3 linked regions of the Homo sapiens genome follow. The protein of the gene in region 3 interacts with the protein of the main gene of each other region in a biochemical or structural test. Each region holds a gene or a part of one and is shown on either strand. Other genes may lie near its edges.

The links.
Region 1: the proteins of RAD54B (region 3) and DMC1 form a complex in vitro, tested with the Homo sapiens proteins (one study listed by BioGRID).
Region 2: the proteins of RAD54B (region 3) and RAD51 form a complex in vitro, tested with the Homo sapiens proteins (2 studies listed by BioGRID).

Annotation. Positions count from the first base shown.
Region 1 is NC_000022.11:38,532,130-38,539,239, reverse strand, and holds part of DMC1 (meiotic recombination protein DMC1/LIM15 homolog), read left to right. Parts: intron 1-627; coding exon 628-701; intron 702-830; coding exon 831-945; intron 946-1,587; coding exon 1,588-1,648; intron 1,649-7,110. UniProt on the Homo sapiens protein: Participates in meiotic recombination, specifically in homologous strand assimilation, which is required for the resolution of meiotic double-strand breaks.
Region 2 is NC_000015.10:40,698,110-40,705,219, reverse strand, and holds part of RAD51 (DNA repair protein RAD51 homolog 1), read right to left. Parts: intron 6,464-7,110; coding exon of another isoform or gene 6,462-6,463; coding exon 6,375-6,461; intron 4,157-6,374; coding exon 4,019-4,156; intron 3,415-4,018; coding exon of another isoform or gene 3,294-3,414; intron 1-3,293.
Region 3 is NC_000008.11:94,472,013-94,479,534, reverse strand, and holds the start of RAD54B (DNA repair and recombination protein RAD54B), read left to right. Parts: upstream 1-4,419; 5' UTR 4,420-4,534; intron 4,535-7,522. UniProt on the Homo sapiens protein: Involved in DNA repair and mitotic recombination. May play an active role in recombination processes in concert with other members of the RAD52 epistasis group.

The sequences.
Region 1 (7,110 bases), on a different chromosome or scaffold from region 3:
GATACTTTTTTTCTATTTTATTTTTCTCTAAATTAATTTACTCAGTCTATAAATTTTATCATCTGGTAAGTCCTTAGATAATAAAGTGCCCTCAAATTATTTATTATTCTTTGTCTTTGAAATTAAGAGTAACATTCTTTTTGGATAATGTAGCATTTGGTATACATGCTAAGGCAGAATATGCAATAATTTTTTTTTTTTTTTGAGATGGAGTCTCGCTCTGTCACTCAGGCTGGAGTGCAGTGGTATGATCTCGGCTCACTGCAACCTCCAACTCCTGGCTTCAAGTGATTCTCCTACCTCAGCCTCCCAAGTCGCTGGGATTACAGGCACACGCCACCACACCCAGCTAATTTTTGTATTTTTTAGTAGAGTCAGGGTTTCACCATGTTGGCAAGGCTGGTCTTGAACTCCTGACCCCAAGTGATCCACCTGCCTCGGCCTCCCAAAGTGTTGGGATTATAGGCATGAGCCACCATGCCCTGCTGCAATAATATTTAATAAAGTCATCAATAATTAAGAAAATCCTTCAAGGAATTTATTTTGCCTGGCTCCCAAGAATATGAATGATCTTAGCCTCTGCTTCTTTCAACTTTTATAACATTTTCTCACTGCATTTCCCATCAGGTGAACATCAGATGGAGCTACTTGATTATGTAGCAGCAAAGTTCCATGAAGAAGCTGGCATCTTCAAGCTATTGGTACAAGCTTTTAAATATTGCTTTCACAGAGCTATTTAGCATAATATTTTTCTTCTATTGATCTCTATTCAAATAACGTCTTCCTTCAATTTCCAAATGCATGTTTATTTTTACATTAATCCTGTGTAGATTATCGATTCAATAATGGCACTTTTTCGAGTGGATTTCAGTGGCCGTGGGGAGTTGGCCGAACGGCAGCAAAAATTGGCCCAGATGTTGTCACGACTCCAAAAAATCTCAGAAGGTATATCTTTAAAATAAAATGGCATCTGTGACTATGTTTGTCAAGTATACTTTGCAGAGAAGCTTGGAATATAATGTCAGGAGGCAGCGATTTTTTTTTAAATAAAATTACCTTTATGAGAATACAACTCTTTGTTTTTTTTTTGTTTTTTGAGATGGTATCTCGCTCTGTTGCCCAGGCTGGAGTGCAGTGGTGCGATCTCGGCTCACTGCAACCTCCGCCTCCCAGGTTCAAGCAATTCTTCCTCCTTAGCCTCCTGAGTAGCTGGAATTACAGGCACCTGCCATCACACCAGGCCAATTTTTTGTATATTTAGTAGAGACGGGGTTTCACCATGTTGGCCAGGCTGGTCTCGAGCTCCTGACCTCGTGATCTGTCCGCCTCAGCCTCCCAAAGTGCTGGGATTACAGGCATGAGCCGCTGAGCCCGGCTTTACAACTCTTTTTAAACCAAAAATATTTATTCTAACCTTAATAATAATAATAACAAATAATTTCTGTTGTCAATGAAAAATAGGAATATGATGTTATTTATAAAATAAATTCATGATGCAATATGTCTAAACTCTGAAATCTAAACAATGAACTTTTAAATATCTATATTGCCTTTCTCATAGTTTTAAAATTTTATCTCTTGATGCAGAATATAACGTGGCTGTTTTTGTGACCAATCAAATGACTGCCGATCCAGGAGCAACTATGACGTAAGCCCCAATATTCTACTTTTTATTTCACAGAGGTTAATATAAAGAGGGTTAGAGCGTAGAATAGAAAATAATTTCAAGGCCGGGCACGGTGGCTCACGCCTGTAATTCCAGCACTTTAGCAGGCTGAGGCAGGCGGATCACGAGGTCAGGAGATGGAGACCAGCCTGACTAACATAGTGAAACCCCGTCTCTACTAAAAATACAGAGATTAGCCGGGTGTGGTGGCGCACACCTGTAATCTCAGCTACTCCGGAGGCTGAGGCAGAAGAATCACTTGAACCTGGGAGGTGGAGGTTGTAGTAAGCCGAGATCGCGCCATTGTACTCCTGTCTGGGAAACAGAGCAAGATTCTATCTCAAAAAGAAAAAAGAAAAAAGAAAAGAATTTAAAAATCATTAGTCTTTATGTGGGCACAAATATATCACAAATCACTTTATTACTGGGCGCAGTGGCTCATGCCTGTAATCCCAACACTTTGGGAGGCCTAGATGGTTGGATCACCTGAGGTCAGGAGTTCAAGACCAGCCTGGCCAACATGATGAAGCCTCGTCTCTACTAAAAATACAAAAAATTAGCTGGGCGTGGTGGCGTGCACCTGTAATCCCAGCTATTCGGGAGGCTGAGGTGGGAGAATCACTTGAACCTGGGAGGCGGAGGTTGCAGTGAGCCAAGATCATGCCATTGCACTCCAGCTTGTGCAACAAGAGCAAAACTGCATCTCAAAAAAAAAATCACTTTATTGCACAGTGTATATGACTTCATAATTGTAAATATCACTTGGTAACCAGAATCTATTTTTCTCTAGTTCTTTATAGAATAAAGCAATACTTTAACCATTTTCAGCAGTACTTTGGGCTTCTCTTTGGTCTAGGGCTAAAGGGGTATGGGAGGACAATAAGAAATAGATCCTAGGGAAATAAAAACTTATATTGCAGCTTATCAGTATAATAAACACCATTCATAAAAACAAAAAAGTCATCTTTCTACAGGATATACATGAGATATATTTATCAGAGGCACTATGGGAGAAGTCTCCTGTTTGAAGAAAAAGAATTTCAGTTCACACTAGGCATATTCAGAATTTGTTGAAGTGTTTGTGCACATAACTATTGATGACTCTGAAAGACGGCAGTGAATAGAAACACACAGAGAGCTAAAGTAGGATAATAAAAATAGATAAATCAAACAAAGGTTTGTTGCCACCGTAACAAATTTTGAGCATTATGTGTCTGAATAAGCAATCAAAATAATCCTAAATACACACCACTGCACTCCAGCCTGGGAGACAGAGCAAGACTGTCTCAAACAAAGCAAAACAAATCTAAATTCATGATAATGCTTTTTTAAAGTGTGTGTGTGTTTTTTTTTTTTAAGAGACAAGGTTTCACTCTGTCACCCAAGCTGCAATGCAGTGGCACCATCTCTGCTCACTGCAACCTCTGCCTCTCAGGCTCAGGTGATGCTCCAGCCTCAGCCTCCCGAGCAGCTGGGAGGCACACATCGCCACGCCTGGCTAATTTTTTTATTTTTAGAAGAGACAGGGTTTTGCCATGTTGGCCAGGCTGGTCTCGAACTCCTGGCCTCAAGCGATCCTCCCACCTCAGCATCCCAAAGTGCTAGGATTACATGTGTGAGCCCCCTTGCCTAGCCAAAAAGCTTTTAAAAAAATCTTTTAAAGGCTGGGTGCAGTGGGCAGTGGCTCACTGTAATCTCAGCACTTTGGGAGGCCGAGGTGGGAGGATCACCTGAGGTCAGGAGTTCAAGACCAGCCTGGACAACATGGCAAAACCCTGTCTTTACTAAAAATAAAAAAACTAGCCAGGCATGGTGGTGTGCACCTGTAGTCCTAGCTTCTTGGGAGGCTAAGACAGGAGGATCACTTGAACCTGGGAGGCAGAGGTTGAAGTGAGCCAAGATCGTGCCACTGCACTCCAGCCTGGGTGACAGAACAAGACTCCGTCTCAAAAACAAAAAAAAAAAAGATTTTTTTAAAGGTTTTTATTTAGAAAATATTTTTACCAGAGAGAAGTTAAAAAACTAGTGCAATGAATTCATGCCACTGCATTTCAGCCTGGGAGACAGAGCAAGACATACTCATTTATCTAGGTTCATCAGTTGTTAAATTTGCCACATTTTTTCTCTCTCCTGTATGTGTGTGTGTGTGTGTGTGTGTGTGTGGAGGTGTACATACACCTTTGTTTCTCCACACATACACACATTCTCATATGTATATGTATGTGGTATGTGTATACGGTTTTTTGTTTGTTTTTCTTTTTCTTTTTTTTTTTTTGAGACGGAGTCTCGCTCTGTCACCCAGGCTAGAGTGCAGTGGCACGATCCCAGCTCACTGCAGTCTCCGCCTCCCAGGTTCAGGCGATTCTCCTGCCTCAGCCTCCTGAGTAGCTGGAATTACAGGCACCTACCACCACACCCGGCTAATTTTTTGTATTTTTAGTAGAGACGGGGTTTCACCGTGTTAGCCAGGATGGTTTCTATCTCTTGACCTCACGATCCACCTGCCCCGGCCTCCCAAAGTGCTGGGATTACAGGCATAAGCCACTGTGCCCAGCCTCTTTTTTTTTTAGATGGAGTTTCACTCTTGTTTCCCAGGCTGGAGTGCAATGGTGCGATCTCAGCTCACTGCAACCTCCACCTCCTGGGTTCAAGCAATTCTCCTGCCTCAGCCTCCCGAGTAGCTAGGATTACAGGCACCTGCCAACCACCCCTGGCTAATTTTTTTTGTATTTTTAGTAGAGACAGGGTTTCACCACGTTGGCCAGGCTGGTCTCGAACTCCCGACCTCAGGTGTTCCACCCACCTTGGCCTCCCAAAGTCCTGGGATTACAGGCATGACCCACCGCACTCAGTCGTGTTTGTTTGTTTTTTGAGACAGAGTCTTGCTCTGTCACTCAGGCTGGAGTGCAGCAGCACCATCTCAGCTCACTGCAACCTCTGCCTCCTGGGTTCAAGCAATTCTCCTGCCTCAGCCTCCCGAGTAGCTGGGATTACAGGCGCCTGCCACCATGGCCGGCTAATTTTTGTATTTTTAGTAGAGACGGGGTTTCTTCATGTTGGCCAGGCTGGTCTCGAACTCCTGACCTCAGGTGATTCGCCCACCTCAGCCTCCCAAAGTGCTGGGATTACAGGTGTGAGCCACTACGCCCAGCCTGTATATGTATTTTTTGGTGAACCATTTGAGAAGTTTCTTCTGAACCACTGAAAATTATTCACAGACATCATGACACTTCACCTCTTAATACTTCAGCATATCTCTTCTAAGAATAATGATGTTCTTCTACATAGCCACAATATAATTATCACATTCAGAAATTCTAACATTGGCATAATAATGTTATCTAATATACAGTTGTATTCAAGTGTCTCCAGTTGCCCCAATAATGTCCTTTATAGTTGTTGGGGGTTTTTTTGTTTTGCATTCAATTCAGGATCAATTGAAGAACATGCACTGCGTGTAATTGTCATGTCTCTTTAGTCTCCTTTAATCAGAACAGCTCTTCAACCTTTGTTAGACTTTTATGACACCGACATTTTTGTAGAACACAGACCAACTGTTTTGCAATGTCCCTCAATTTGAAGTTGAATTTTTTCTTCATTACTTAAAATGTTAAGCATTTTGACAGGAAAACTACATAAGCAATATTATGGCCTTCTCAGTATATCATATCAGGAGGCACATGATGGCAGTTTGTCCCATTATTAGTGATGTTAATTCTGATCATATGATTAAGATGATATTCACATGATGTCTCCATTGTAAAAGAAAATTACAAAAATTCTCTTTTATATTTAATTAGTAATTTGTGGTGTGATAATTTGAGACTGTGTAAATATCTTGCTCTGCAATAAGCTTTCATGCATTTATATTAGCATCCATTGAAGATTCTTGCCTAAATTAATTAGAGTAAATTAATTATTACTCTGATGGTTGCAATACAAAGTGCTATTACTTTAAAACAGAAGCAATGCATCATATGGTAGCAGATTAAATGTATCATTGACAGATATATTAAAAGATATTTGATATGCTGGAGTAAATTCTGTAAATTACATTGAAATGAATGTGTCTCTCTTTAAGCATTTTCCAAATTTACCCTTAACAATTTTGCTTCATCTTTCGCAGTTTGATATCTATCTCTCACTTTTCAAGACTCTTTTTTTTTTTTTTTTTTTTTGTGATGGAGTCTCGCTCTGTCACTCAGGCTGAAGTGCAATGGCGCGATCTCGGCTCACTGCAAGCTCCGCCTCCCAGGTTGATGCCATTCTGTCACCTCGGCCTCCCTAGTAGCTTGGGACTATAGGCGCCCGCCACCACACCCGGCTAATTTTGTTTTTGTGTTTTAGTAGAGACGGGGTTTCACCGTGTTAGCCAGGATGGTCTCGATCTCCTGACCTCGTGATCCATCTGCCTCAGCCTCCCAAAGTGCTGGGATTACAGGCATGAGCCACCGCGTCTGGCCTCAAGACCCTTTTATAAGTATTTTCTACTTAGTTACAAGAGATTCCTGTGAAAAATATTAACTACTCAAATGTTATTAAGCAAGTTAAAAAGATTGAGCAGGGGAAATCATTTATTCACTCAATGAATATTTATTGAAAATCTACTATGTAACAATATTCTGAGAATTCACTAGTGAACAAAAAAGACAAAAATCCTGGCCTCGGCCAAGCACGGTGGCTCACGCCTGTAATCCCAGCACTTTGGGAGGCCGAGGCAGGAGGATCGCTTGAGCCCAGGAGCCTAAGTCACATAGACAGACCTCGTCTCTAAAAAAAATTAAAAATTAGCCAAGCATGGTGGCACATGCCTGTAGTCCTAACTACTTGGGAGGCTGAGGCAGGAGGATTGCTTGAGCCTGGGAGGTCAAGGCTGCAGTGAGCCATGTTTGCACCACTGCACTCCAGCCTGGGCAAGAGAGTGAGAACCTGTCTCAAAAAAAAAAAAGTCTTGTGAACGGGTGTGGTGGCTCACTCCTGTAATCCAGCACTTTGGGAGACCAAGGTCAGTGGATCACGAGGTCAGGAGATCGAGACCAGGCTGGCCAACATGGTGAAACCCTGTCTCTACTAAAAATATAAAAATTAGCCGGGCGTAAATGCGCGTGCCTGTAATCCCAGCTACTTGGGAGGCTGAGGCAGAAGAATCGTTTGAACCCGGGAGGGGAGGTTGCAGTGAGCCGAGATCACACCCCTGCACTCCAGCCTGGGTGACAGAGTGAGACTCTGTCTCAAAAAAGAAAAAAAAAAAAAAAGAAAGACAATAAATGATGTCCATTCAACTCAAAATTTTAGTCTTGGTAAGTCACACATTGTCTATAGTATAGTCGCTGAGTGGTTAAGGCAATCATCTCTGTTTTATGGGATGACTTTCATACACAGGACATGAAGTGCTTCACAAAGAGAATAATTTTAAACTGAAGAGAAATGGAAGATTTTTAAGG
Region 2 (7,110 bases), on a different chromosome or scaffold from region 3:
AAATGTTTTTGCAATGAATGAAAACGAAGATATACCAAAACGTATGGGCTCCAAGAAAAGCAGTGCTTAGAGAGAAATTCATAGCTATAAACAGCTATATTAGAAAAGAAGGCTGGGTGTGGTGAATCACACCTGTAATCCCAGCACTTTGGGAGGCTGAGGTGGGAGGACTGCTGGAAGCCAGGAGTTTGAGACCAGCCTGAGTAACAAAGCAGCACCCTGGCTCTAAAAATGTTTTAAAATTAGCAGGGTGGCTGGGTGTGGTGGCTCACCTCTGTAATCTCAGAACTTTGGGAGGCTGAGGTGGGCAGATCACAAGGTCAGGAGTTCAAGACCAGCCTGACCAACATGGTGAAACTTCCTCTCTACTAAAAATACAAAAATTAGCCGGGCGTGGTGGCACGCGCCTGTAGTCCCAGCTACTCGGGAGGCTGAGGTGGAAGAATCACTTGAATCTGGGAGGCGGAGGTTGCAGTGAGCTGAATTTGCACCACTGCACTCCAGCCTGAGAGACACAGCGAGATTCCATCTCAAAAAAAAAAAAAAAAATTAGTAGGGCATGGCTGGGCATGGTGGCTCATGCCTGAATCCCAGCACTTTGGTAGGGTGAGGTGGGCAGATCACGAAGTCAGGAGTTCAAGACCAGCCTGCCCAATATGGTGAAACCCCATTTCTACTAAAAATACAAAAAATAGCTGGGCGTGGTGGCGTGCGCCTGTAGTCCCAACTACTCAGGAGGCTGAAACAGGAGAACTGCTTGAACCCGGGCGGCGGAGGTTGCAGTGAGCCGAGATCACACCACCGCACTCCAGCCTGGGCAAGAGAGTGAGACTGCATCAGAAAAAAAAAAAAAAAAGGCCTGGCGCGGTGGCTCACGACTGTAATCCCAGCACTTTGGGAGGCTGAGGCAGGCAGATCATGAGGTCAGGAGATCAAGACCATCCTGGCTAACACGGTGAAACCCTGTCTCTACTAAAAATTAGCTGGGCATGGCGGCACGTGCCTGTAATCCCAGCCACTCAGGAGGCTGAGGCAGGAGAATCGCTTGAACCCAAGAGGCAGAGGTTGCAGTGAGCAGAGATCACGCCACTGCACTCCAGCCTGGGCACAGAGGGAGACTCCGTCTCAAAAATAAAATAAAATAAAATAAATAGCAGGGCATGGTGGGGCGTGCCTGTGGTCCTAGTTACCTGGGAGGCTGAGGCAGAAGGTTTGTTTGAGCCAGGAGTTGGAGGCTGCAGTGAGCTATGATCACACCACTGCACTCCAACGTAAGTGACAGAACAAGACTCTGCCTCTAAAAATAAAAAAGATAAATCATAACCTAACCTTCCAAAGAAAAGCAAACAAAACAAAGCAAGCAGAAAGATGGAAATAATACAGGTTAGGGTAGAAACTATTAAGTAGAGGGCAGAATAATAGAGAAAAATCAATGAAACCAAAAGCTGGTTCTTTGAAAATATCAACAAAATTGACAAACTTTTAGCTGCATTGCCCGAGAAAAAAAGAGAAAAGACTCAAATTACTAAAATCAAGAATGAAAGAGGGGACATTACTACTGACTTTATGTAAATAAAAAGTAGTATAAGGAAACCCTGTGAGCATCTCTATGTCAACAAGTTAGGTAACTTAGATGAAATAAGCAAATTCTTAGAAAGATAAACTACCAAAACTCACTCAAGAAGAAAATCTAAATAGACCCATAGAAAGTAAAAAGATTAAACTTTCATAATGTTTAAATTTCCCATGAAGAAAAAAAATCAACAAATAGCTGAAAAATCAATGAAAGTTTATTCTCTAAACTTTTCTATATACTTAATATTTCATTTAAAAATTCATTGCACGGCCAGGTGCAGTGGCTCACGCCTGTAATCCCAGCACTTTGGGATACTGAGATGGGCGGATTACCTGAGGCCAGGATTTTGAGACCAGCCTGGCCAATTCATATACTCACTGTCATTTCAGTGCAACAAACATGTACTAGACACTTACTTCGTATGAAACATAGTCCCAGGGACTCTGAAGGATATGGAGAAAAAGAAGAGCTGATTCCTGCCTCCACAGAGCTTATAACTTAATCAGAAAGATAAACTATACAAAATAACTATAGTACAAGTAGATGTGATGGGTAATATGAGAAGTACTAACAAGCCATGGGAGCTCAAGGAATATAGACTACTTCCTTTGGTGAAAAACAGGAGAATGTATTAGCAAAGACAAAACTGGTAGAAATGGTCAGGCTAGTGGCATGTGCCTATAGTCCCAGCTACTCAGCAGGCTGAGAATTCCTTGAGCCCAGGAGTTTGAAGCTGAAGCTGCAGTGAGCTTTGATCATGCCACTGCACTCCAGCCTGGGCAACAGAGTGAGACTTTTCTTTTTTTTCTTTAAAAAAAAAAAAAAAAGGTGGGCACAGTGGCTAGTGCCTGTAATTTCAGCACTTTGGGAGGCTGAGGTGGGCAGATTGCTTGAGGCCAGGAGTTTGAGACCAGCCTGGGCAACATGGTGAAACCCCGTCTCAACTGAAAATACAAAAATTAGCCACGTGTGGTGGTGGGAGCCTGTAATCCCAGCTACTTGGGAGGCTGAGGCACGACAATCACTTGAACCCGGAAGGCAGAGGTTGCAGTGAGCAGAGCCAAAATTGCACCATTGTGCTCCAGCCTGGGTGACACAGCGACACTCTGCCTCAAAAAAAAACAGAAAACAAACAATACAATCATAATCTTTACTGGCCAGAAACAAAGAACATAAAATATTGAAAAGTAAAGACACGTAAGTCTATACCATATTGCATCTCAAATCATGTATTCTAGGTTTGCATTGTTGTGTTCATAGAAACAGAGAAGTGACTTGATTTCTGAAACCAAGATCTCGCAAGGCAAAAAGAAAAGATCCTGTCAGCATTTGTTCATTCACAAAAACTGATACCCAAAAAGCGAAAACAGAAAGACTTTAGGGACCCCTACTGGCTTAGTCAATATGACAATCTTTTAACAAAAATACTGTTAGGGACTCAGAACCCTTATTTCCAATTAAGCAACCACTTCAGCAAATATTCATTTGAGTAATCCAATAAATTTATCTAACGCTAACAGTAATCGATACGTGAAAATACAATTTTATAAATAAATATTTGCGGTGGGGCGCGGTGGCTCACACCTGTAATCCCAGCACTTTAGGAGGCTGAGGTGGGCAGATCACAAGGTCAGGAGATCGAGACCATCCTGGCCAACGTGGTGAAACCCTGTCTCTAATAAAAATACAAAAATTAGCTGGGTGTGGTGGCACATACCTGTAGTCCCAACTACTCGGGAGGCTGAGGCAGGAGAATCACTTGAACCTGAGAGGCGGAGGGTGCAGTAGACCAAGATCACGCTATTGCACTCCAGCCTGGCAACAGAGCGAGACTCCGTCTCAAAAAAAAAAAAAAAAAAAAAAAAAATCTGCTTTATACTACATAAAACTTCAAGGGTAAAGGCAATAAAACTGTGTAACTATATAAACACTGAAGAAATAGGTTCATAAAACAAAATGTAACCATGGGGAAGTATGTATGTTAAAGAACTATATGAAGCTAGAAAAATAAATAGGCCAGGCACAGTAGCTCACACCTATAATCCAGCACTTTGGGAGGCTGAGGTAGGTGAATCGCCTGAGCTCAGGAGTTCGAGACTACCCCGGCATGGTGGCATGTGCCTGTAGTGTAGTCCCAGCTACTTGGGAGGCTGAGGTGAGAGGATCGCTTGAGCTTGGGAGGTGAAGGTTGCAGTGAGCTGAGATGGCACCACTGCACTCCACCCTGTGTGACAGAGCGAGAACCCGTCTCCAAAAAAAAAAAAAAAGAAAGAAAAAAAAAAGAAAAGAAAAGAAAAGAAGAAAAGAAACAGGTAACAGTCACCCCTGGAAAGGATAATGAGATGACCGAAGAATAAGAGATAGAAGGAAGAAGTCTTTCACTACATTCCCTTTTGTACTATTCCCACTAATGCCTCCCTAGGTTAAGTAAGCAGTACTTACCAGAATTTTATCAGCTTTGGCTTCACTAATTCCCTTAATATTTATTAGCTCCTTCTTTGGCGCATAGGCAACAGCCTCCACAGTATGGAATCCAGCTTCTTCCAATTTCTTCACATCGTTGGCATTTATGCCACACTGCTGCAAATGAAGAAAACCATGGATAAATTTAAGCTTTAGTTCTCTAATCTAACACAGATGTTATGTGTCCTACATACTTCACAGAGGTGCTTGAAGACTTGTAATACAACTGTCCCTTGAAATCCTTGGGGGGGCGGGGGGAGATGGGAAGTTGGTTCCAGGACCCCCAGCAGATAACAAAATCCAACAATGCTCAAGTCCCTTATATAAAATGGCGTATTACCTGCATATAACCTATGTACATCCTCCTGTATACTTTTTTTTGATATGTAGTTGATTGAATTTTTGATACGTAGTTTGTTGAATTTGCTGATACAGAATCCGGAGATACAGAGAGCCTACTGTTATTATATGCAAAAGCTGAAAAATGAGCCCTATATATGAGGTACTTAATAACAAATTAACAACCTTTTCATTATCAAAATCAATAATTTTAAACTAGCACTAAGCCATGTACATTAAAAAGAACTCCTATTAGCAATTGGAATTAAAAAGTAACTCCCAACCTTTTTTTGTGACCCTAAATGATCTCTGAGACCTTGGGCCCTACAAGACCACTTTAAGACAGTGTTGCTCAACACTTTCCACATCAAGCACACATAAAAAACTGTATTTTTACACTATGGTAGGGTAAATAGATAAGGCTGCTCAGAATATAAAGAGCACTATCTTGGCCTGTCAATACTTTTTGTTGAACAATGACCAGAAAGCTCTGCTCTAACAACTGACATTAACAGTGAGGAAAACTACTTTTTGTCAGGGACTTTTATACCTCTTCTCAAAACAAACCACCCAAAGACACCTCTTTCTTCCTATATTCAAGTCAGCTTTGGTTTCATTAGCCACCAAAACCATGACTTCTGGGAAAACATGAGTTAGTAGGTGAATGTGGGTGCATTCAGGGGTTGGGAGAATTTAGAAGAGGGGAGAGATTAGTTTGCCAACATAAGCCATGTCTGCTATTAATATTTAAGCAATATGCATGTTTGAGTATAAGGATGCTCATGGCACCAGAAGTTATGACTCTGAACTTTCAAATGTTTATCACAAATCCATTTAAGTAACTTCTAGAGTCTTTTTTTTTTATTAGCCTTTTGCACTCCTAACTTCTAGAGTCTTGAAGATTAGTCAGAGATGGGAAATATGAAAAAAAGAGACAGAAGAATCAAGTCTTTCTCTGCTTTCCTCCTACTTAGCCCAAATCAGCTGCACTCACAGGGCAGTCTCTATACAATGGGCAGAAATAGTGTAAGGCCTCAGCTCTGGTGCTTAATGTTCTTGTGCAGAATCCTGAATTGGAGCTTGTCTCTTATACCATAACACCACCACACCCTTCTCTCTGCCAATGACAGCTGACAGCACAAATCTAGGTTAATGGAGAGAAGGTGCTTCCCTGTCTTCCTTGCATAACTGGTCCAGGCCGCTATAATTCCCAGAACAGCACTTTCATACTTAGTGCAAATAGCACAGGATGCTTTGGCCAGGCATGGTGGCTCATGCCTGTAATCCTAGCAGTTTGGGACGCCAAGGCAGGTGGACTGCTTGAGGCCAGGAGTTCAAGATCAACATGGTCAACACAGTTAAGACCCATTTCTTAAAAAACAAACAAAAAAACAGCACAGGCTGGGCGCAGTGGCCCATGCCTGTAATCCCAGCACTTTGGGAGGCCAAAGAGGGTGGATCACCTGAGGTCAGGAGTTCGAGACTAGCCTGACCAACATGGAGAAACCCTGTCTCTACTAAAAATATAAAATTAGCTGGGTGTGGTGGCTCATGCCTGTAATTCCAGCTACTTGGGAGGCTGAGGCAGGAGAATCGCTTGAACCTGGGACGCAGAGGTTGCGGTGAGCCGAGATCACGCCATTGCACTCCAGCCTGGGCAACAAGAGCGAAACTCCATCAAAAACAAACAAACAAACAAACAAAAACAGCACAGAGATTCCACCATGGGATCCTAGGCCTTAGTTTCTGACAGTCCAACTCTCAGAAATAAAAATGATAAAGTAGGAAGAGAATTGTTGACAAAGGAAGAGGCCCTGCCAGACATATTTAGCAATGATCTGCAGCCTTTCCACAGGATTATTGACAACACTTCTGAAAAGTCTAATTTGGGTCTTGACCTTGGTAGTAAACCTATATTTTATGTAAAGGTTGTAATACCTTCCACTAGGTAGAAGAATCTAGTATATAATTCCAAAATTAGCAACTAACCACATACCTCTAACCGTGAAATGGGTTGTGGGCCAAAGCTTTCTTCTTCCACTGAAGTATCTGCATTTGCTTCAAGCTGCATCTGCATTGCCATTACTGAAAAATACAAATGCTTATCAGTATAAACACTAGAGAAATAAGGTGCATCTCTCTCCCCATCTTCTATCTAGCTAGTCGTATCAAAAAGACTTTAGGAAAAGCCAAGGCCATTCTCTTATTGTGCCTCTCTGTTCTCCTGCTTTATATTCCTTCAGTGTAGGGGCCAAGTTTTACTTATTTTTATATACCCCATTATACATTATAAATGTGTTTGCAGACAAATACTGCATGATCTCACTCATATGTAGAATCTAAAAAAGTTGATCTTGGCGGGGCGCGGTGGCTCATGCCTGTGATCCCAGCACTTTGGGAGGCCGAGGCGGGCAGATCACCAGGTCAGGAGATCAAGACCATCCCGGCCAACATGCGAAACCCCGTCCCTACTAAAAATACAAATATTAGCAGGGTGTGGTGGCACACGCCTGTAGTCCCAGCTACTCGGGAGGCTGAGGCAGGTAAATGGCTTCAACCCGGAAGACAGAGATCGCAGTGAGCCGAGATCGTGCCACTGTACTCCAGCCTCATGACAGAGTGAGACTGTGTCTCAAAAAAAAAAACAAAAAAAAAAAAGTTCATCTCATACAAGGAACAAATAGAACAGTGGTAACCAGAGACTGAGGAGAATGCAGCTGTTGCAGGGGGCG
Region 3 (7,522 bases):
TTGGATATGTGGCCTTAGACTGTTATCTGCAGAGTCTAGTTATGTTTTTTGTGCTTCCACACTTTTGACTACAGACTTCTTTGAAATTCCATTTCTGATTATTGTGTTTTAAGTTGTTATATCTACTTTCATATCTGAGATGTTCTGTCGCCAGGCTGGAGTGCAGTGGCGCAACACGGCTCACTGCAACCTCTGCCTCCCGGGTTCAAGCAATTATCCTGTCTCAGCCTCCTGAGTAGCTGGGATTACAGGTGCCCGCCACCGTGCCTGGCTAATTTTTGTATTTTTAGTAGGGACGAAGTTTCACCATGTTGGCCAGGCTGGTCTCGAACTCCTGACCTCAGGTGATCCACTCTCCTCGGCCTCCCAAAGTGCTGGGAGCCACTGCGCCCAGCCACATATTCTTGAGTTTAAAATGGAATAAGGTTTTGAGGTATTCATTTAGAAAAAAAATGCTGAATTACATGACTTATTTTAAAGCAATAGACAAAACTAAAATATTAGTTAAATAAACATTCTTAAACTTTTTTTCAAGTTAATAAATCTTGACAAATTATTTGAGTTGACAAACTGTGTTGTATTCCCCACTGAAGGTCTCTTGGTTTGCTAAGAGATACTTTAGGCATATTTTGGTAAAGCTTTGGTCCTCTTTAAGTCTGCAGCTGCTTTCAGTTGTTGCCTCTAGGAAGGATGCTTTTAGATGTTCTGGTAATCCTGGAATGGTAGAATTGCTATTTACTCTGATGAAACATTTCACTTGGTCCTTCCAGAACAAGTTAGGGTCCTCTGGAATCACTGTTCTCTTTAAGCTAAATAAGGAATCAAAAATAATTCACCTGAAAGCCCAAGTCATATAAAATAAATATTATCCAAAACTGTTCTATAACCATGTGAAACTTATTAATTTTTTTTTAATTGAAGTGAAGTCTCACTATGTTGCTCAGGCTGGTCTTGAGCTCAAGCTGTCCTACTGCCTCAGCCTACCAAGTAGCTGGGATTACAGGCACGCATAAGCACACCCAGCTAGCATGTGAAACTTTAAAAAACTGTTCAATAATTTTCCCTCCGAAACTTACTTCGATGAAAAAGTAAGAAATTAGTAATGAATAGAGCTAGGTACTAATCCTGCCTTTGCCATTCATTAACTTCTGTGTGATATGAACAAATCACTAGTGGGGTGTTATTTTCTCATATTCTGAAACATAAAATAGAAGTAGGAATATGTGTGGTGGGAGGTGAATATGAATCAAAAGAGAAATGTATTACAGATATTTATTATAGAGTTAAAGTAAAAAATAACAGTCCAGAATTGATCAAGTGTAGTGGCTAGGAGACAAGTGGGATCACAACTGAAAAAGAAGGGTAATCAGACTAAAAGGAGGTGTCCAAATTATTTTTCTCCTCTCCACTCCTCCCACCCCAGCTGTAATGTTGATGCTGCTTAATCAATTAACTAACATTACCAATAAGTAATAACCAATTAATGTGTTAATTCAACATTATAGTTACAGAGACTTTTACCTCCAATATTTGTTACTGTTAACCCCAAGGCATAGTATAATATCCTTATAAAAATATTTAGGGGTGACATACTTGGCATTGAATGATTAAAGAAGGAAATGAAACGAATACCAATATATTCATTTCCAAAGATATATGTATCCACATAATTGGACAAAGACTTTGATTTTTTTCTTTTGAGACAGGGTTTCATTCATGTTGCCCAGGCTGGTTTTGGACTCCTAGACTCAAGCGATTCTCCCCACTCAGCCTCCCAAAGTGTTGGCATTACAGGCATGAGCCACCACACCCAGGCCTAAATTGCATTTTATTAGTTTCCTTTAGAGATAATCCAAAATCAGACTATACACTTCTGCAGAAAAGTACTTTTGAACTACACATTACAGTGTCCTTTGCATTACCAGGTACTTCATGTTTAGTATTTGTTGAGTAACAGAAATCTTGTTTTTTAAACTTCTTTTTTTTTTGAGATAGAGTCTTGCTCTTTTGCCCAGGCTGGAGTGCAATGGCACGATCTTGGCTCACTGCAACCTCCACCTCCTGGGTTCAAGCAATTCTTCTGCCTCAGCCTCCCCAGTAGCTGGGATTACAGGCACTCACCACCATGCTCAACTAATTTTTGTATTTTTAGTAGAGACAGTGTTTCACCACGTTCACCAGGCTAGTCTTGAACTCCTGACCTCAAGTGATCCGTCCGCCTTGGCCTCCCAAAGTGCTGGGATTACAGGCGTGAGCCACCACGCCTGGCCTTTTTAAACTTTTTACTTGAACTAATGTTTGACTTACAGAACACTTGCAAAAACAGAACAGAGTGTTCATGTGTACACTTCTTCCAGCTTTCTTTCTTTTCTTTTCTTTTCTTAAGAGACAGTGTCTCACTATGTTGCCCAGGCTGGTCTTGTCTCAAGCTCCTGGCCTCAAGTGATCCTCCTGCCTTGGCCTCCAAATAAATATCAACAAATATTTATTGAGTGCGGTCTGTAAGACTAGTACAGTTCTGGCTGGGTGCTGTAGCTCATGCCTTTAATCCCAGCACTTTGGGAGGCCGAGGTGGGCAGATCACGAGGTCAGGAGTTCGAGGCCAGCCTGGCCAATATGGTGAAACCCTGTCTCTACCAAAAATACAAAAAATTAGCCAGGCTTGGTGGCGGCGCATGCCTGTAGTCCCAGCTGCTTGGGAGGCTGAGGCAGAAGAATTGCTTTAACCCAGGAGGCAGAGGTTGCAGTGAGCCAAGATCATGCCACTGCACTCCAGTTGGGTGACAGAGAAAGACTCCGTCTCAAAAAACAAAACAAAACAAAAAAGACTAGTACTATTCTAAACACATGGGTACAGCAGAGAATAAAGCAAAGATCCTGCCCTCATGTAGCTTATATTCTGAGAGTAATAGAAAAACAATTAACAAATAAGTATATGTTAGGGAATGGAAAGTGTGATGAACTCTATAAAGCAGGGTAAGGGAGATACAAGATGAGACAAGAGAGCAATGCACTGTCAGATAAAGCCCTTTGACAAGTTGATATGTGAGTAATGATCTGAAGTGAAGGATCAAACCAGATGCAAATCTGCAAGAGGAATGTCCCAGGTCACCTTTAGCCAATCTGTTTTAGATTTTCTGAACTCCCCAGATGATATTAAGGTAGGCTGCAGACACTATGAAGCTAGCTTGTTTTCTGGTTACCCTTACTCTTTATGTGTCCCAGTCCAAAGAAGAGGGGGGTGCGGTTTACTAAGGTGCCCAACCTTGGCAGGTCCCCATTTCAAATTCTTGTAACGCTGGCTCCAGGAGCTGCCAAAAGCACAACTCAACCTATGAGGTGCTCTTTATGACTGGAAAAAGTCCCCAGGATAAAAGCTCCTTAAGCACATTACTCTTTTTTTTTGAAACAGGGTCTCTCTGCTGCCCAGGCTGGAGTGCTGCGGCACCATCTCGGTTCATTGCAGCCTTCACCTCCCAGGTTCAAGCGATTCTCCCGCCTTAGTCTGCTGAGTAGCTGGGATTACAGGCGCGCTCCACCAAAACCAGCTAATTTTTGTATTTTTAGTACAGACCGGGTTTCACCATGTTGGCCAGGCTGGTCTCGAACTCCTGACCTCAAGTGATCCGCCCGCCTCGGCCTCCCAAAGTACTGGGATTACAGGCACAAGCCACCGCTCTCAGCCTCAAATTACTCTTTTAAATGGCTGTACCTATTTACACTCCTACCAGCAGCCCAAGAGTTCCCATTGTTTCACATCTTCATTTCACCCTTGATATTTTTTAGCTTTTACTTTTTGTCAAACTGCTGGATAAAACTCAATAAACAACCTTTAGCCATTCTCTCTCCTTTCAGATTAGCCTTTCTAATACCATTTTTCAGGGATAGTTGACTGTGTTACCGCCTAGCACTTAGAAGGTGCTCAGTAAATACTCATTGAATGATGTAACTTTCCTACTTAACATGCTTTAATGCTTTTCCAAGTCCGGAGGCGGCTCCCCTTTTCTGAGAGCCTAATAATCACGTATTCGTTTCTATATTCCCAGAACCTAACAAAGAGTTTGAAAATTATCCTGCAGGCACCGCTAAGTCAATGTTTTTTCGGATGAATGAATAACCAATAGGATATCGTATACTTCTGCGATGCACGCATTTCTATTATCGCACACACCGAATCATACCGTATTTATTACTTATCCACGCAGATGGTGAGGTCTGTAGCCTCGGCATCTACACTGTGTCTGAAAGTAGGCACTAAACCAGTATTTTTTTAATTGAACCGTAAACTTGAATCAAACTTGGAAGCATTTAAAGCCAAACGCAAAGATACATGCGCAGTGATGCAGTAGGGTCGTCCAATCAGAGTAGGGCAGGACAGGGCAGTGCAGCGGCTAGGTAGTGCGCACGCGCGGCGGGCTCGTCCGCGATTGGCTTCGCCGAGGCGGGATCCTTGAGCTTCTCCGGCGGCGAGGGGATAGCTGGTTACCAGAAGGACTTCTTTGCAGGGCCAGTGGTTTCTGTCAGATTTTCGCCGGTGCGTCCTGCAGGGGGAAGCTCGGGAGGCTGCGACAGCCTGTAGGCTCGTGCGGGACAAAGCAGGGAGTGGCGCCGGAGCAGGCCAACGAGGGAGGAGGGAGGGAAGGCGGCAGGAGCGACCGAAGTGGCCTTCTGCGGGCCTGCAGCTTTGGTCTGAAGTGCCAGGGACGCCCTGGTTGCTGGCCCCGGGGGCCTTGGAGCGAAGGGCGGGCGGTGGGGGTTTAGGGTTGTGCGTTTGTGTGGGAGGGATGGTTCTGGGCAGTGGCCCCTGGGGCCGCCACTGCGGTCGCTTTGCGCAGGCTCCTCTTGGCTTTTGGGTCTCTCCCTCACTCCTGCACTGGGAATTTCCTTCCCCAGGGCCAGGGGGTGAAGGCTCTGCGAGCGTCCTGGAGAGTGTCGGTACGCCTTCTTTAGGGGCTTTTACCTCTTCACTGGTCAGGTTTTTCTTGTATTTCCTTAAAACCTTTTAATCGATTACCTTATGGAAGATTTTCTAGGTAGGAACAGATGCTTCTCGACTTACTACGGGGTTGAAAATATCCCAAATGGAAAATGGATTTAAAACACAGCTAACCTACTGAGTATTAAAGCTTGGCCTAGCCTACTTTTGTTATCAAAAAAATTATTTTCAGCTGTTTATTTTAGATTTGGGGGTACATGTGCAGGTTTGTTGCATCGGTATATTACGTGGTGCTGAGGTTTGGATACGATTGATCCTGTCACCCAGGTAGTGAGCATGTTACCCAATAGTTTTTGAACCCTTGCTCCTCCTTTCCTCTCCCTTCTAGTTGTCTCCACTGTCTATTGTTGCCATCTTTATGTTCATGAATGCCCAATGTTTAGCTCCCATTTATAAGTGAGAACATGCAATATTTGATTTTCTGTTTCTGCTTTAATTCGCTTTGGATAATAGCCTCCAGCTGCACCCATGTTGCTGCAAAGGACATGATTTCATTCCTTTTTATGGCTGCGCTAGCCTACCTTAAACATGCTCAGAACACTTACCTTAATCTACAGTTGGGCAAAATCATGAACACAGACGGTTGTGTGGTTACTTGTACAGTTTCTACTGAATGCTCATGGCTTTCTTAAAAGTCGAAGAATTCTAAGTGACACCGTCCTAAATTAGGAACCATCTATATAGCCGGAGTCTCAAAGGAGCAATTTAAGGCATGAAGTGAAATAATTACTACCTAATGTAGTTGGAAGTCGACAAGCAGCAACAGCAGGGAGAGACCGTTGCTGGTTCTTGGTAGAGTTGGTGTACTTACATTCTTGCATCCTCGACGTTTGATGGTTGCACATACCTCTCTTTAAAGCCCAGACGAACCCAAAGATTCTGGTCATTGTCCTGTATGTTGAACTACCCCTTCTCTATCTCCTTCACAGGACCTTCATCATTTCTACTCTCCGATAATACTAATTATAACAGATAACATTGAGTGCTTACTATGTGTCAAGTTTTGTTCTAAGTGCTTTACATATTTCATTTAATCCTCCCAACAGTCCGGTGTGTAAGCATGATTATGGTACCCCCTCTTAAAGATGAGGAAACTGAGACACATGGAGCCAAAGTAAACTGTGCAAGACCATTAGAAAGTGTCAGTCCACATTTATATTCAGGCATTTGCTTTCAAAGTTGTGTTCTTATTTACCACAGTGTAGTGCCAAGTACTTGTGGCTATCTGGTGTATTACAGTTGTCAGCTTGGCCTTACCATTTTACTTGGAAGGACTGAAACTAATAGGTGTTATAGAAGTTGTAGCATCACATCAGGGCTACCAAATGGCTTTATTTCTAGGACCTGGGGAAAGGGCTCAGACAGCACTAATTAATTAATTAATTTATTATGGACAGGACAATATGAACATACAGAACCAGTTTAAAAAGCTATAAGGGTGCAATGGTCTTTTGGGGGGAAATGTACTGATTTCTGCATTTTACTTTGTATCAACAAATTAAATGGCTTGATGGATGCCCAAGGTCATATGTAAGTAGCAGAGTTGGGATTCTAGCCAGGCAGCCTGGCTGGCTCCAGAGTCAGTCTGTTTTCTTAACCACTGCTCTGTGCTGATGGTTGTATGCTTGCATTATCATTTTTATTAGTTTACAAAATAGGAGGATTGAAAAATCAGAAATCATGTATTAGATGTAGAAGGATTTAGGGTAGTAATTCTTCGCATTTAGTGTTGAAAGAAATTTTAGCATCTAGTTCATTCTTTATTTTATAAATGAGAAAATTGGTGTCTAGAGAGTTAAATAGCTTCCCCAAAGTTAAGCATCCCTGAAATAGCAGAATCTGAACTACACTCTGGTTTCCTTCATTTCTACTGTTGATGTTTCTAACTACTGTATTTTTTAAGTGTTCCTTTTTAAAAAGTGTCAGAATTTTCACAGTATTAGAGGGGAGTCTGACTAATGTAGAGAACAGAACTGATTACATTTCATGATGTGGACATCATATTTTTATTAATGCTATCTAGAATTTATTAGTTTAAGAAGGCTCATTATCTTATTTCAGTTGAGCTATAGTCACTAAAATCTTTAGTTTTAAATTTCAGCTTCTATTGTTCTATTTCATTTGACCATTAAGTAACTGAGTCTAAGTGCAAGGCCTAACATCCATGTCGTCCTGTGACAGTTACCGTTAATCAATTTCAAACTTGTGTCAGTTATATATTTAGAGGCCTGTAGTATTCTGCTTACCCATTATAAAAAGGAAATTAGTTTAATGAAGTTATTTTGGCATGACTTGTTTGGTCAGAATTTGTACTGACTTCTGGTATTGGTAAATACTGCTTCTAAAGCAGTCAAAAACCATCTGTTTCATAATTTGCTTTAAGATTAAAGATTATACTAATAGAGATCTATTTTGTCCTTGAATAAGAAACAGAAGAGAGTGATCTCTCCTACTCATTCCTCAAACTATATAAAGGCTGGTTATATATAAAATATTTACATGTTTCATTATTTTAACATTGATGAA